Regions from separate parts of the Homo sapiens genome. Here region 2 is linked to region 1. The links come from fine-mapping of genetic effects on gene expression. A gene starts in region 1. The other region holds a variant in brackets. All regions are shown on one strand. Distances are from middle to middle. Region 1 holds the start of RAD51B-AS1 (RAD51B antisense RNA 1). Region 2 has its middle 25 kb from the start of RAD51B-AS1.

Region 1 (2,916 bases):
CTGGAGAGAGATGACGGGGAAGCTTATACAACGATGTGAATGTACTTAATGCCACTGAATTGTACACTTAAACATGGGTAAAATGGTAGCTTTTACGTTAGGTATATTTTACCAGGATAAAAAGTTTTTTGTGTTTGAAAATATACCCTCTAATAGACTCAGAGTTGCTGACAGGCCCTCTCCATGGGTTGATGTAACCGTCTCCTTACCTCAAGACGAGGTTGACCCATCCAAGATTGGAGGGAACTTATCCTATTTTCAGATTATTTCCAGGGAAGGGAGCCCATGACATTATTAGGCAATCTTTTCCAGTGTCTCAAAACCCCAGACATTCTGGGTACCAGACCTTTCCTGCTGCACCTGAAGTTGATTTTCCTTGGTCAGTAAGTGCTTTGTCAGGCCACAGACTTTTCATGCACTCAAAGGCTCTAGTTACACCATCCCTAGCGTAGATCTGATGGTGCCAAGTAACAAGCCAGCAAGTGGACTTTGGAGGCCCAGCAAGCCTCCCTGTCTCACAGGCTTCTCATCAGTATAATGGATAAACAGTGCGAGGCTTGGATTCCTAAGCAGTCCTGGGACACAGGCCCCGCCAGGCCCTGGCAGGTGAAGAGCCTACCATTTCTCACTTCATTTAGGATGTATAATAGTTTGTTGGACGCTAGAACTGTACCCTTTCAGATCTGTGTCTTTACTTTTCAGCTGGAGGCCTCTTGCTGACAGGGTAGCGTTTCCCAAAGACACGGGAGCTGAGCTGGTGAGTCATTTCAACAGCCCTTACACTCTCCTCTGACCAGAGACCACATGACATATTAATCAGCTGCTTGAAAGGTATACCTGGCAGGCATGTTTCCTGCAGCCTGGAAGATGCTGACCTCGTCAGCTTTGAAACATCAAAGGGCTAACAAGAGAACAACAGGCTGAGAAAGACCTCATCACCTGGGTGCCTGTTGACCGCAGCCTTGTAAGGCCCAACACAGCTGAGATGTGCTGTCTGGAGCTCGGAGGAAGTGGAGCTTTTTCTGCTGTGAGGACCCGCCTTCAGCCCCCTTTTGGGGCACAGGAAGGGGAGGGAGTGAGCCTAAATTGTGGCCCCATGCTTAGTGACTCAGATGTTACTGCTACCACAAAGGGAAATTCATGTGGGGGTGGACATCTCCAGAGACCTCACTCACCTGTGATTTGGGGGATAATAGCATCACTCATGTGTTCACGTGCCAGGCCTGTCACCCCGGAACATTAGTCAAAGGGCTGTGTTGACAGTGATTTCAACTCTTGAATTATACGAAGGACCTGGCCGCAAGAAGGCATTGAGCCCCGAGGAGGACAACAGGCCTCAGGTACTTCATGTGATTAAAGCTGAGACAAGGGGAGTCCCATGGGTCAGTCCTGTAACTGGGGTCTGATATACACTAGTGATAGGCATTAGCATAGTTTGCACATTATATGATAGTCTTGGTCCTTTTCATTTCCTGATAAGCTGGAATGTCTGACAGAGTAAATTCCAGATGCCCTTGTGGAATTCTCATTACGATCATGTTGCTAAGGAACTGTCTTCTACCTGTATGCAATTTGGAAATACTATTAATAGTATTAACATGGAGTTTTGCAGTGTGTGGGTTTATTTCTTATTGTATTTATAATCACCCCCACCACTACCTTCCCACCGCTGGCTCACCATCTGAGGAGCTGGCATCAGGAAACTCAAGAAAGAAGGAAGGAAGGAAGGAAGGAAGGAAGGAAGGAAGGAAAGAAGGAAGGAAGGAAGGGAAAGGTTGTCCAGGCTTCACAGGAAGAACTGCATTTGTATTATTCTGTATTGAATTCTCAGGACCTCCACATTGCAGGCATCTAGAGGCTCCAATTAATAGTTGATAAATCTTGAAGGGAGGAAAAAATAGTCACAGAAAGTTCACTTGAGTGACCTGAAATTCTATAGCAATTTAGCCAGGGAGCCGGGAGGAGAATATGCCCTTCCAACTTGCAGGCCAGCTCTCTGCAGGAAGCCAGGCAGCTCTCCCAGGGGAAGCAGTGGCCAGGGCAAGCATGGGTCTTGAAGCTCAGGACTGGCTTTAGGACTCTGGCTCAGACAAGATGGGTGGCTCAAAGGTATTGAAGGGCTAGGTAGGGCCCTGAAAATTGGGCCTTTCTGCAGCAATCATCAGGGAGACTAATGGTCCTGGGCTAGGGAAGGAGTCTTCTTGGCCCAGAATGGCCAAGCAGCCAAATATTAGAGCACCTCCAGGGAGGTGTCCCTGGAAAGGGTCCTCCCCCAGTCAGCTCCTGCGGAGTGCAGGCAGGTTTGGGGGTCTCTCCTCTAGGAGAGATCCAGGGAGCTTGAGAGCAAAAGTGACAATGTGCCTGCCTTCTTCCTTCTCTGTAGGGCTCTGTTCTCTTTCTTCTTTTTTGAGGCAGGATCTTTTGCTTTATTGTCCAGGTTGGAGTGCAGTGGCATGATCACGGCTCACTGCAGCCTCAGCCTCCTGGGCTCAAGCAATCCTCCCACCTCAGCTTCCTGAGTAGCTGAGACCATGCCTGGCTAATTTTTAAGTTTTTTTGTAGAGACGAGGTCTCATTGTGTTGCCCAGGCTGGTCTTGAACTCCTGGGCTCAAGCAATTCTCCCACCTCAGCCTCCCAAAGCACTGGGATTATAGGCGTGAGCCACTGTGTCTGGCCTGCTCTCTTTCTTAAGGAGAAGGCTTCTGTTATTTTTTGGTCAATTGGGTGCAGAAAGCCTGTTCCCCATGGACAACCCTTGAGGGGGTCAGAATGTCAGCAGAAGGGAAAGGATGGCTTTCCAAGAGTGTTCTGTGCTTGGGCATAACCGTCTCTTGTGTCCTGCTCCTGAGAGCCATGAGACTAAGAGCATGGGACAGAGGCAGTGACTGAACTGGGCTTGAGAACACCTTTGTTTG
Region 2 (2,916 bases), 25 kb before region 1:
GTGCCTAGGGCCTGTGCGTTATACCTTAATGAGGGGTTGGGCCAATGGTGATGTGTTTCATCCTTTTTTAATGAGGTGCTGTTTTGCATAGATAAATAGTATGATTGTGATGTGGGAACCAAATGGCAGATCATTTTGCAAAAAGCACTGGGCAGAGGTGAGATTATGAAACCAGTTCTGCTTCAGGCCTGCTGCCTGAGCGTGGGAACCCGGAGGTGTCTGAGTCTGGGCCTCAATCTGGGCCGACTGGATCGAGGCCGCCCTCTCTAGTTCACCTCTCAGCAGCTGGGCTGGGACAGGAAGATGCCTCTCCACTTTTTACCTGTGTTTCAGTATCCCAGGCAGGGCAAGCAGATGGGGGAAGGCAGGTGGCCTCCCACCTGCTGTCCTCACGTGAACATATGGTCTGAGGTTGATGGGACCAATGATCTGGTCTGAGGCCCGGGACCAAAGCTCTTAACGTGTATGGAACTGATTTCTTATTGCTGGAGAATAAGAGCTGAAGATTTAGGTGCTGTAGGAGGTGGGTCTTGGGCAGTCCAGTCTGAGGCTCAAAGAGGTTTTGTGCATTGTTGAAAAGCAGGAAACAGGGAAAAGGAAAACATCCTTGGTTCTGGGTTTACAATGGACTTCCTAGCTGCGGTAGTTGGATCTCAGAAGAGGAGGTAGAGGTCTGAAGGGAGAGGCTGCTTGCACAGTCAGGCGGGAGAACTCAAGCAGGGTGGAATGAGATAGAGAAGACAGTTGAAGAAGAAGAACCAGGGCTCAGATTTCTAGACGGAGGATGTTCCTGTAATGCCCCACTCAAGTGGGACTTTGGAATGGCTGGAATGGTCATCCAGCAAATAAACGTACTGCACATTGTTTGTGCTTTAATGTACCCACATGCCTGCCTTTTGTCAGGTTCAAAACACCAGATCCAGGAGATAAGTAAAGCCAAGACCAGCGCTGCCCAGGATGGAGACACAGGTGCCTACTTCTCCAGTGGTGGCTGCGGCGAAGGCAGAAGTGAGAGTGCCCCCTACAGAATACATCAGGGAGAGGCAGCCTGGGGTATCAGTATGAGCCTAGGCAAAGGCCATCCATTCATTCACTCTGTGGACAACCATTTGTGGAACACCTACTGAGGTGTCAATAAGACAAAGATCCCATCTTCGAGGAAGCGAGATCAGAATAACTTCCTCACATTACACATCTGGAGAGCAACCAGTTTTTTTCCTCCCGGTTTTCCGTGGTTCCTCGGC[A/G]CACTGTCACAACTGCAGCCCTAGGTAGGAGGTGAGACTTGGCTAATGGTCTTCCTTACATCCAGACCTCCACTTCCCTCTTCTACTGGTGGAGCAGCTGGGGAAGGGCAGGATGAGAATTGGGGGAGTTGGCTCTACTCTTCCCAAGGTCTTAGGACTCAATGGGACGCCTCTGGATAGTTCCCAGACATGTTGGGTGGTGTGGCAAGGAGTGTTAATGATTTAATGATGCAATTCAATTATGCCAGGCTGTTAATGAGCTAAGTGCAGTATCTTTATTATGCATCAAATACTGGAACACATTAAGTACCTGTAGTGTCTCAGGTCTTCCCCACATGCTACATTAAAATCATGATTCTATAAGAAGCTCATAACCCCTGCTTGTCTAACTTCTTCAATGATCTGACCTTAAATTGATCTGTAAAACCAACTGTGACCTTTATCCTAGAGCTTCAAGAAAGTGGCTTAATAGGGGATTACAATATTCATGTTTCATGTCATCCCAGGAATGGTCTTTGGTCCTTATTCTACTGCGTTCTCACTGTAGGGAACCACTGTAGATTCCTACCACACCACTAATTCCAGTTCTGGAAATGAATTCTATAAAAATTATTCAACAGAAGCAAAAAAAACCTACATGTTTGAAGATGTTCACTGTGCTTAAAAATTGGAAATGATACAGCACATAGAAGATATAAAATATTAGAGGACTAATTGTGCAAGTTATAGGAAATCTGTGTGTGGTATATTATTTAAACATTAGAAATGATAATGACAATGCCTTTGCCACATAGTGGAAGATGTCTCTTATATCATAGTAAACAGAAAAGGTAGAATATAAATCAGTATGTACCTTTGGCAATCAGTTGGCATGCATGTTGAAGGCTGTTTGCAAAAGATAATTATGTTAGGATAATGAGGTATAGGTGCCAAGCACGGTGGCTCACACCTATAATCTAGCACATTGGGAAGCCAAGGCAAGAGGATCACTTGAGGCCAGAAGCTCGAGACTGGCCTGGGCCATATAGCAAGATCTGTCTCTACAAAAAATAGGTGGGATTGGTGGTGTGAGCTTGTAGTCGTAGCTACTCTGGAGGCTGAGGTGGGAGGATCACTTGAGTCCAGGAGTTTGAGGCTGCAGTGAGCTATACTTGTGATACAGAGCCTGGGTGATACAGACAGGTCCTGTCTCAAACACACAAAAAGAATGGTGAGATGTAGGTAATTTGATTATCTTACAATATTAGTGTTAAGGCTGGATGTAATTTTCAAGCACACTAAGAGAAGGAAAAAAATCCTACCTTAGAATATTATAGCAACATCTCATGATTAACCATTTTCTTCATTACGCTCAACTTGCTCCCAAAGTGAGGTGTGGGAACTGGTGGTGTCTGAGTGACCTTGGAATTGTACTCAACAAGCTGATTCCTGGGCTCTGCCCCACCTAGAACCAGAATCCTTTGGGGCATCATCCAAGAATTGGCAGTTCAGCCAAGCTTTGCAGTGATTTTAATGCACGTTCATGTTTGAGAACCACTGTTCTAGAAGTTCTCAGAATCAAATTGTAAACAGATGACAACAAGAAGCAGAAATTGATTTTCCCTCATGAGAAGCAGCCAATTCTCTGAAAGTCAACTTACTTAGGAGTCATTTCACCAGTTCTTTGAATTTG

What was found. PIP is the estimated chance that this variant, and not a neighbour inherited with it, causes the effect.
Region 2: its variant is fine-mapped to the expression of RAD51B-AS1 in whole blood (GTEx, PIP 0.97).

Annotation. Positions count from the first base shown.
Region 1 is chr14:68,683,795-68,686,710 of GRCh38, reverse strand. It overlaps RAD51B-AS1 (RAD51B antisense RNA 1), which reads left to right and starts at 1,271. Exons shown (of 4, transcript XR_007064220.1): 1 at 1,271-1,340. RefSeq lists enhancers at 934-983, 2,567-2,916.
Region 2 is chr14:68,709,070-68,711,985 of GRCh38, reverse strand. No RefSeq gene overlaps it. Among named protein-coding and RNA genes, the nearest start is that of RAD51B-AS1, 25 kb to the right of the region's middle. The variant A/G (reference allele first, on the strand shown) is at 1,245.